2 separate regions of the Homo sapiens genome follow, and region 1 is linked to region 2. The links come from fine-mapping of genetic effects on gene expression. A gene starts in region 2. The other region holds a variant in brackets. All regions are shown on one strand. Distances are between the middles of the regions.

What was found. PIP is the estimated chance that this variant, and not a neighbour inherited with it, causes the effect.
Region 1: its variant is fine-mapped to the expression of ADGRA2 in whole blood (INTERVAL, PIP 0.99).

The regions. Positions count from the first base shown.
Region 1 is chr8:37,818,670-37,824,037 of GRCh38, forward strand. All of the region lies in intron 2 of ADGRA2 (adhesion G protein-coupled receptor A2), which reads left to right. Among named protein-coding and RNA genes, the nearest start is that of ADGRA2, 24 kb to the left of the region's middle. RefSeq lists an enhancer at 3,138-3,711. The variant G/T (reference allele first, on the strand shown) is at 2,622.
Region 2 is chr8:37,793,564-37,798,931 of GRCh38, forward strand. ADGRA2 (adhesion G protein-coupled receptor A2) reads left to right here and starts at 3,320. Exons shown (of 19, transcript NM_032777.10): 1 at 3,320-3,971. The coding sequence starts at 3,706. RefSeq lists enhancers at 1,750-2,315, 2,316-2,881 and silencers at 3,145-3,384, 3,395-3,564, 3,845-3,934.

The sequences.
Region 1 (5,368 bases), 25 kb after region 2:
TGGGAGTGAGCACAGGAGATCAGGTGCCTGCCCTCCCGGCCCTTACCTCTACTGATAGGACCCAGAAAATAGCAAATAGGTGTGTGGTGTGTCTGGAGGCCTAAGTGCAGCAGAGAAAAACAAGGCAGGGTAAGGAGGTGAGAAAGCAAGAGGGCCAGGGGTGCTATTTTATGTAGTGAGGTCAGGAAGGCCTTGCTGATGACATGCCTGGGCCTGAGACCTGAAGGGACGAGGAAGGAAGCCTGGAGCTCTCAGGAAGGATGAAGAGAGCAGGCATTGCCAAGGCCCCTGGGTTCAGGGAATGCCTGGGGAGTCTGAGAAATAGAAGGGCAGTGTGAGCTGGCAAAGCGAGCCAGGGGGAGGTGGCAGGAGACAGGTAGGATGTGATGCCGGGGTGGCTACTGGGGTGGCCTTCGATTCCTCATTGTCAGAAGAGCTAGGGTAGATGGGGTGATTTGGGAGGTGCATTATGGATCTAAAATTCTATGATCCTTGGATGTGTGTGGGACACCCACAGCGCCCATAAGGAGAAGATAATCACAGGACCCAGTGACAGGGCCAGGCTTTCCAGAGGAGGGGCCATCTGGGCAGAAGGGTGTGCCGTGGGCAGCAGGACAGGGATGGTGCTTGTTCAGGGCTGGAGGAGCTCAGGGTCTCCAACGTGGTCACTGATCACTGCTGTATTTATATATGCAAATACTTACTATTATTATTATTATTTGAGATGGAGTCTCGCTCTGTCACCAGGCTAAAGTGCAGTGGCACGATCTCCAGTGCAACCTCTGCCTCCTGGGTTTTAAGCGATTCTCCTGCCTCAGCTTCCCAAGTAACTGGGATTACAGGCACACGCCACCATGCCCAGCTAATTTTTGTATTTTTAGTAGAGACGGTGTTTCATGTTGCCCAGGATGAGGATGGTCTCGATCTCTTCACCTTGTGATCCGCCCTCCTTGGCCTTCCAAAGTGCTGGGATTACAGGCATGAGCCATCGCACCCGGCCTTTTTCTTTTTTCTTTTTTGAGACAGAGTCTCACTCTGTCACCCAGTCTGGAGTGCAGTGGCACAATCTTGGCTCACTGCAACCTCCACCTCCCAGGTTCAAGTGATTCTCCTGCCTCAGACTCCTGAATAGCTGGGATTACAGGTACGTGCCACCACACCTGGCTAATTTTTGTATTTTTAGTAGAGATGGGGTTTCAGCATGTTGGCCAGGCTGGTCTCGAACTCCTGACCTCAAGTGATCTGCCCACCTCAGCCTCCCAAAGTGCTGGGATTACAGGCATGAGCCACCACGTCTGGCCATGAAGACATTTTTTAAAAAAGGAATTGACATGATTGTGGGGGCTGGCAGACCCCAAATCTGTAGGGCAGGCCAGCAGTCTGAGAAGTCAGACAGGAGCAGACGCTGCAGTCTTGGGGCAGAATTTCTTCTCTAGGAAGCCTCAGTGTCTGCTTTTAAGGCCTTCAGCTGATTGGATGAGGCCCACCCACATCATACAGGAGCATCTCCTTCACATGAGGTCAGCTAATGGCAGATGTCAACCACATCTACAAAATACCTGCACAGCGACATCTAGATTCATGTGTGATTAAACCACTGGGTACTATAGCCTTTGTCAAGCTGACACAAAACTAACCATCACAACCACTATCCCCCCAGAAGGAGAGGGCCCTTGGGTAATACAGATGCTGGGCCTCCCTCCTGGAGATTCTAATTCATCTGTCCCATGGGGCCTGGGAATTTTTTACATGCTATGCAGGCAATTCTCATGCTCATCCAGGGTTAGGTGCCAGTGGGCAAGATGACCCCTAGACTGAGGGCCTATTCATCAGGAATAAGACTCCATGGGCTGGCATGTAGTTGGTGCTCAGGAAACACTGATCCCTCTGTCCTGTCAAACTCAGATGTCTAGGCTTGGGCGGCTGAGGCCATGGCAACTTAACATCCCACAGTCTATGAGCAGCACGTCCAGTGGGAGGGTTGAGGCCCAGTCTGTTAACTGAAACGGAAGCTCCAGGCTGTTGCAGAATGTGTTTGCATGGCCTCCTTGGCTGAGAGCCCCTTGAGCCTTTGCAAATGGGCTGTGTGTACGTGAGGGGGTCGCCTTGTTGTACAGGAGCTGGGAGTAGATCTGCGTGGTATCTGTTTTGCAATGCAGGGTCCTGAGGCCAGCATGGGCAGGATGGGCAAGGAAGGGGCCACAGAGCGGATGCCCAGTGGGAATGTGTCAGAGATGATCATCCAGAGAGGTTGGGGGTAGGGGTGGAGATGGGGGGGCACACACCTTTATCAGCCAGATAGGATAGACAGGAAGACCTGAAACAGAGCCCTGCAGAAACACCTCCTGGGCCGCCCAGGGAGTGTACAGAAGACCCACCTTGCACGTCTGTGCCCTCTCTCTCTCCCACCACCCTCCAGCATGGCCAAGACTGTTTCTTGCCCAAAGGAAAGACTTTTGGGGCAGAGAGAAGCTGATGAAAGAGCGCTGGACTCCATTTGGTGTGAAAAGCAGCCTGGAGTGGAATCATCCCTCCTTCTTTTACCTTCCAGTGCCTCTCCCAGCCCTGGGTTACTCACCTGGAAAATAGGGCTATGAGGAATTGTTACAGGAACAGAGGAA[G/T]AGTTCCTTACACAGAACGCATGGCAGCACAGGCTTCCAGTATATGGCAGGCAGTTCCCTTCCCCTCTGAAGATTTCCCAGTTGCTAGATGTTACCCTGGCCGCCTGTCATTTGCATAGATTTGCCTACAGTTCCCAGCCTTGGGCAGGCAACTGTGTAGCTGAAATATACATGCTCCAAGTACAGCTGGTGATTCATTCCCCGGGATCCCCTGCCAAGCACATGCAATGGGGACTAGGCCACAGGAAGACTTTTCTGGGGGGCTCTGAGGGTGTCAGTCACAGTAAGATGCCTCTAGACCAGGGACCAAGCCGGCCAGGGCAGACAGCCCCAAGAGAGGCCAAGGGAGCGAGACTGCGTGCCTGCCAGCACATGGGTCTGTGTGGACACTGGCCCCCAGAGGCTCGTGCACGGCTAAAGGAAAGAGTCTGGGAAGGGGAGCCCGGTCAGCCCCGGGATGATTTGTCATTACTTAATGAGATTAATGAGCCCCGGGGGCTGGTATGCAGGGGTGCTGAGGCGCTCATTAGAAGCAGATGCTCATGGGAACGAACGAAAGTGGCGGCCTGGGGGTGGAGTGAGGCTTGCCCAACGCCAGGTGGCTTCCATTAGTCTGTGGGTGGGGCCGAGGGTGAGGCTGCTGGGCTCTGTCCCTCCTCCCCTCCCCGTCCCCAACAACACTGGGGAGGAATGCCGCAGACAAGCTGCCTGGACTCCTGCACCACTGAGGCCCAGGAGGGAAGGCTGATGTGTTCAGGGACAGCCCTCTTGTTTGCCATGGTAGCCCCCATGCCTGGCATGGGGTACATGCTCAATAAATAACCTGTGGATTGTTATCAGAGACAAGAGGCACCTGGAGGATGGGACTAGAACCTCTCCCTTCCTCCCCTAGACACTTCTATACCTGCAGGGTGTCCTGGCCCACTTCTCAGCCAGCCCCCACTTTCTAGTGAACCCTGGAAGTCTTGTAGGCCCAGGGAAGGCTGCTTTGTGGCCTCCGAACCTATAATTTGGTTTTCAAACCCACAAGCAGGGAGGTCTGTGGGGCCAGAGGGAGCTGACTCTCTGCGGCCCCACCCTGCCTGTATGTGGGTACACACACACACACACACACACACAGTCACATGCTCTTTAACTCACATGCTCTTTAACGGCTCTAGTGAGATATAATTTACGTGCCATAAAAGTTCACCCGTTTAAAAAAAAGTGTGCAATCCAATGGTTTCTAGTATATTTTACAGAATTGTGTAATCACCATAATCTAATTTTAGAACATTTTCATCATCCGCAAAAGAAACCTTGAATCATTAACAGTCACTCCTCATTCCTCCACCCCCTCTTCCCCAGGCCCAAGCAACCACTAATCTGCTTTCTGTCTATAGATCTATAAATCTGCCTGTTCTGGACATTTTATATAAATGAAATCATGCAATAGGTAATCTTTCATAACTCGATTCTTTCAGCATGGTACTTTCAGGGTTCACCCATGTTATAGCACGTATCAGCACTTCATTCCTTTTAATGGCCAGATAATATTCCATTGTATGACTACACCACATTTTGTTTATCCCTTCATCTCTTGAATATTTGGGTGGATACTACTTTTTTTTTTTTTTTTTGAGATGGAGTCTCACTCTGTTGCCCAGTCTGGAGTGCAGTGGTGCGATCTCGGCTTGCTACAACCTCCTCCTCCCGAGTTCAAGCGATTCTCCTGCCTCAGCCTCCTGAGTACCTGGGATTACAGGCGCGCACTACCACACCCGGCTAATTTTTGTATTTTTAAGTAGTGACGGGGTTTCACCATGTTGGTCAGGCTGGTCTCGAACTCCTGACCTTGTGATCTGCCTGCCTTGGCCTCCCAGAGTGCTGGGATTACAGGTGTGAACCACCATGCCCAACCTTTTTTTTTTTTTTTTTTTGACAGACAGGGTCTCACTCTGGCGCCAGGCTAGAGTGCTAGAGTGCAGTGGCATGATCACGGCTCACTGCAGCCTTGACTTCCTGGGCTCAAGCAATTCTCCTGTCTCAGCCTCCTGAATAGCTGGGACTTACAGGCACGCACCACCATGCCTGGCCAATTTTCTTTTTTGGTAGAGATAGGGGTCTCACTGTGTTGCTCAGGCTGGTCTTGAACTCCTGGTCTCAAGTGAGCCTCCTACTTCAGCCTCCCAAAGTGTTGGGATTACAGGCTTGAGCTACCACACGTGGCCAGTTTCTACTTTTTGCTACTATGCACAATGCTGCTGTGAACATTCAGCTATGGGTTCTTGTGTGGATGTATCTGTATTTCTCTTGGATATATACCTAGGAGTGGAATTTCTGGGTCATATGGTAACCCGAACTGTGAAACTGTTTTCCAAAGTGTCTGCACCATTTTACATTCCCACCAGTAATGTGTAAGGGTTCCAGTTCTCCACATCGTCATCAACACTTGCTGGAGTCTCTCTTTTTTATTACAGCTGTCTTAGTAGGTGTCAAGTGGCTTTGATTTGCATTTCCCTTACTGCTGGTGATGTTGAGCATCTTTGTATGGGCTTATTGGCCATTTGTGTGTCTTCTTGGATAAAATGTCTATTCAGATCCTTTGCCCATTTTTTTCAACTGGGTTATTTGTCTTTCTGCTATTGAGTTGTAAGAGTCCTGTATATATTCTAGATAGACATCCCTTATCAGATCTGATTTGCAAATATTTTCTCTCATTCTGTGGTTCTCTTTCACTTTCTTGATGATATCCTTTAAGATGCAAT
Region 2 (5,368 bases):
CTTCTTTCAAGAGGGAGACGGCAGATATGAGCCCCTAGACTCTTAGGGGAATAAGGTCTCATAGAGTCCGGTAGATTATATTCTTGCCCAGATTAAACAGACTCTTTCGGAAAGTCCCCTCTCCCTTGCTCTGGTCGGAATTAATTCAGTCTTGTCTCTGTGATCGCCACTGAAGAGCTTATCACCTCTGATCAAGGTGTGTTTAATTGGTCAGGCTCCCTAGCAGATTTTTTGAGGTCTGGAACTAAATTCGAGTCATTCTCCTATCTCAAACAAACCTCAAAACAAAAAGATTTTGATGTGGGCAATTCATTCACTCCTCACTGCACCTCTGAGGAGAGGTCTGCAGGAAGCTTCCCAGGGGAAAGTCTCCCTGTGGCTCAGAGAAGAAAGCACTTAAAAAGGAACCATGGCCGGGCACGGTATACTAGAAATAAGAAGAAAAAAGGATTAAAACATGCTCATGGCAGGTTGCGGTGGCTCACTCCTATAATCCCAGAACTTTGGGAGGCCAAGGCGAGTGGATCACCTGAGGTCAGGAGTTTGAGACCAGCCTGGCCAATATGGTGAAACCCTGTCTCTCCTAAAAATACAAAAATTAGCCAGGCATGGTGGCAGGCGCCTGTAATCCCAGCTACTTGGGAGGCTGTGACAGGAGAATCACTTGAACCCAGGAGGTAGAGGTTGCAGTGAGCTGAGATTGTGCCACTGCACTCCAGCATGGGTGACAGAGCTAGACTCCATCACAAACAAACAAACAAACAAACAGACAAACATGCTCATGGCCAGGCATGGTGGCTCACACCTGTAATCCCAGCACTTTGGGAGGCCAAGTCAGGCAGATTGCTGGAGTCCAGGAGTTTGAGACCAGCCTGGGCAACATGGCGAGATCCCCATCTCTACAAAACATTAAAAAAAATTAGTTGCATGCAATAACAAACCTGTAGTTCCAGCTACTTGGGAGGCGGAGGTGGGAGGATTGAACCCAGGAGATCGAGGCTGCCGTGTTCCTGCCACTGCACTCCAGCCTGGGTGACAGAGAGAGACCTTGTCTCACACATACACAAAAAAAGGAATCAGAAAGTAAGTTCCTACCCTTGGACTCTAGTCTCAGTGACTCAGTTTCTTCATCCATACTTGCAAAATAAGAAAGTAACCTCCACTTCATCACCTCCCTGGGTGGGTAAGAAGTCAAATGTGGTGACCCTCAGGACAGTCCAGTGTTTTGTAGATGTCTCCATCAGACATTTCATTCCTAGTGGTGGGGAAGCCTCGCCTCATTAAATGTCCTTTGGCCTCTGTTCAGCCTCCAGGAGTGGGTGTTCCAGTAGAATTCTTCTTTAGACTTTGAGTGTCTTCATTTAGCCAAAGGAAATCACAGAAAAGCTATATGACCCAGGCCAGAGATCTCAGAGTCTTCCTTGCCTGTGAGCAGGAGGGCTGCACAGCCCTGCCTATGGGCTGTGGCTCTGCTGTCAGCTCTTTCCTGAGGAATGCAGCCTGGGCCACCGCCTGTGAGGGCTCCTGCTGGGGGAGTCCATTCCCCTTCTCCCTTCCTCCATTTGCAATCACTATTTATTTATCTTTGGAAGTTCAAGGAACCAGAGAGCCTGCAACTGGGGGAGATCTGTGGAGCCAGGGAGGGAAAGTGAAGAAGCCAACATCTAGGCCCCTGCCTGCCGCCAACGCCAACGGGCAAGAGAAGAAAGCCATTCCCTGCATAGTCAGGGTAGACTTGGCTGACAGGCACAGGGGCCCTAGAAAAGGCACCACCGCACATCAGCAGGGCTAAGCTCACTAAAGAATGTGGCATTCACCTTGGGGACCGCTTGGGTGGTAGAGTGAAGGAGGGGGAACGGGAGTCCTGCCCCATCCCGGCAGCTCTATTAAGCAACAGAAAGGTGAGCTTCTGTGGGGAAACAGAGGAAGCAGACCCCTGGGCTGCACTTCTTACTGCCTGTCCCCAGCCCTGGTTCCGGTGTACTGCAGGCTGTTTTTTTTTTAATTAATTTATTTATTTATTGAGACGGAGTCTCACTTTGTCACCAGGCTGCAGTGCAGTGGCACGCTCTCAGCTCACTGCAACCTCCGCCTCCTGGGTTCAAGCAATTCTCGTGCCTCAGCCTCCCAAGTAGCTGGGATTACAGGCGCCCACCACGACGCCCGGATAATTTTTGTATATTTAGTACAGACAGGGTTTCATCATTTTGGCCAGGTGGATCTCAAACTCCTCACCTCAAGTGATCCGCCCGCCTCGGCCTCGAAAAGTGCTGGGATTACAGGTGTCAGCCACCGCGCCCGGCCTGCAGGCAGCTTTATACCCACCACTAGTTGTCAAGGTCACCCCTGCCACCACCAGTCCTCTGCCTTTGGAAACCATGTGCCCCTCCCCCCCACCACACTCTCTTATTCTAATGCCACGATTTACTGGGCATCTAATGCCACTCTATAAACTGGGGAGCAGGCAGAGCCCCATTTCAACCCCAGAGATCTGCTACCCCAGCAAGCTAGGGGCTGTGTCCAAGGTCAGACAGTAATGAGAGGCAGAGCCGAGTCTGGAATAGGGGTCTCCAGACTCACTGCGCAGTGCTCTTTCCACACCCTGCTGCAAAGCCCTGCTCCTTCTCATCTACTTTTCCCTTGTCCCACTCACTGTCCCCGAAACACACACACACACACACACACACACACACACAGCGTTGTGGAAAATGTAGGAGGCCCAGTCTAGCCTCTAGCCTTGTCTGCCTTGGCCTTTGACCTCTCCTTGGCCGAATGACATGCACCCCCCGCTGAGCGAGGTCACCGCAGCGGAGGAGGGTCTGCTGCCTCCTTGTCTCGGCTGCCATCCTCCTGCGGCTGCCTCCACCGGAGCTGGAAGGAGAGTGAGAGCCGACTTCCAGACTGATCATCGTGTCAGGGGCCAAAGGAAACCTCGGAGCCTTCCACCAAGTTCAACCCAAAACAGGGCGCCCCAGACGTCTCTGTCCAAGCCCGCGGGTCCAGGAGGGCCCCAGCAGCCTGGAGACGCAAGCTGCACCGGCACGGACGAGGGAAATTTTGTGGAAGGTGGTGGTGGTCGGCTCAGAGGTCTGAGATGGGTTGCGGAAAGGAAGGGTCCTGGCCCGGGGCGCGGGGACAAGCGGGAGAGGAGTGTTGGTGCAGGGCGGGCGCGGGGACGCAGGGTCCTCGAACCAGCTGGCCCGCCCCCACTCGGCAGAGGGTCTAGGCCTGGCCGCGTGTCGGTCGGCGCTAGGGCCCCGCGGAAGGCCCGGGCGGGCGGGGACCGGCGGCGGGAGCGGCGCGGCGCGGAGCTGCCTCCATCCATGGCACGGAGCGGCGGCGGCGGCGGCAGCAGGAGCCCGGCGCGATCCGCTAGGTCCCAGCCCAGCGCCCAGCGAGCAGGCGACGCGGAGGGGCCGGGCCTCCAGTGTCCCGAGGGCCGGGCGCTGAGACTCCGGCCGCGCAGCTGGGAGCTGCCCGCGCTGCGCTGACAGCCGCGCCGACGTCCTCCCCGCCGGGGCGCTCGCAGGACATGCCCCCGGGGCGCGGCGGCGGGGACCCCGGGGCTCGCCTCCGCCCAGGGCCCCCCTCCACGCCCTCGGGAGCCCCGGGCCCCCGCTGAGCACTCCTCCCGCACGCCTGGGTCCCTCCGGCCGGCGCGCAGCCCGGCCCCAGCGCTGTGGGTCCCCGCGGGGCGATGGGTTGATGGGCGCCGGGGGACGCAGGATGCGGGGGGCGCCCGCGCGCCTGCTGCTGCCGCTGCTGCCGTGGCTCCTGCTGCTCCTGGCGCCCGAGGCTCGGGGCGCGCCCGGCTGCCCGCTATCCATCCGCAGCTGCAAGTGCTCGGGGGAGCGGCCCAAGGGGCTGAGCGGCGGCGTCCCTGGCCCGGCTCGGCGGAGGGTGGTGTGCAGCGGCGGGGACCTCCCGGAGCCTCCCGAGCCCGGCCTTCTGCCTAACGGCACCGTTACCCTGTGAGTACCCTACCAGGCCAGTTCCGTCCGAGCCGGGACTGGGGACGAAGGGAGGCGAGACGGGAGGGGTGGGAGCAGGGGGAAGGGGGCTATCCCCCCACTTCAGAGATTTCTGGACAGGCCTGGGTTCAGGCCCCCAGAGGGGAAGATTGGAGGAGCAGGGGAGAGACTGGGGCTCCAGGAGCGTGGAGGCGGGAAGGGGCTGCGGGGGACAGGCGCACCCCAGAGAAAGGCACCGCAGGCGCCCACTCACCTGCACAGGTGAAGTGGAGAGCACGCCTGCAGGGCACCCACGCCCCGGATTTCCAGCCTGGACTAGGGTTGCGGACTTTGGGGACCTGAGAAGGGTGAGAGCGGGGAATGCTCAGGAAAGATCGACGCTCGTGGCCCAGGAGGGGGCTGTGGTCCTAACCACTACGGTCGCGTCCCGGACTGGGCTGGAGGAGTCTCCGGATTTACCTGGCTGGCCTTGTCCCTTCAATTGGGGTCATCCCATCCTTGCCCCCTGGCCTGCCAGCGCCGCTTCCAGCCGGTCTCCTTAGGGCAAGGGGAGGCTGGGCTCAGAAAAGTCGGCCCTTGGAATACCGGCGCTCCTGGGCTGCAGGAGACCCTGGCGTCCCCATCCCTCTAGAGGCCCCTCTCCCACGGCGCCGTTTGTGCAGTGAGCTCTGTGCTGGGTCCCGCGTCCTTGCCTCTCCTTTGCCTCTCCTGGAAGTAACTCGAGCTTTGGCTGTTTCTCCATTGACTTCGCGCAAAGATTGCGAAGAAAGAAACGCGGCTGGGGAAGCGGGGTTCCCTCACCGCAGCCCACCCGGGCCTCCTTCCGCGACTTCCCTCTTAGTCAGGGCCTCAGTACGCCTTTGCTTTGCTGGCAGCGAGCGCTGCAGCGCCGCAGCCCGACCCCAAGCCTCCTACAAGGGGGTCGCAAGTCCCAGCAGCCGCGCGAGCATTGGCGACCCCTCCCCACCGCAGAGATTTCCTGCGCCGACCACGTGCTCGCAGCTCCACGCACGCCGTGGATTTGAGGGTCGGGCCCCCGCGGCCGCCGCTTCCTTTCCTGTCCCAAATCCAGCCTAAGAGCCGCTTCCCTTTCCCTGTCCTCCTGACCCCAGTGGCAACCGTTTCTCCACCGCCCCTTGCCCGCAGTCGGGGCTGGCCCAGTCTTTTCGATTGTGTCCAGAACAATACAGTAACGCCTCTGGTTGGGTGAGTTCAGAGGCTGCCCGCTTCCTGACAGGACACAACTGGTCAGCCTCTGACGCTGGCCGCCCGGCCTGCATTTTCCCCGGCCCGGGTGTGTGTGTGCATGTGTGTGCCTTAAGGGTGGAGGCGGTGTGTCTGCTCGCTGCCGCCTCCCTGCTGCTCAGGGTAAGGCTGTGGCCAGGGAAGGCACCTGT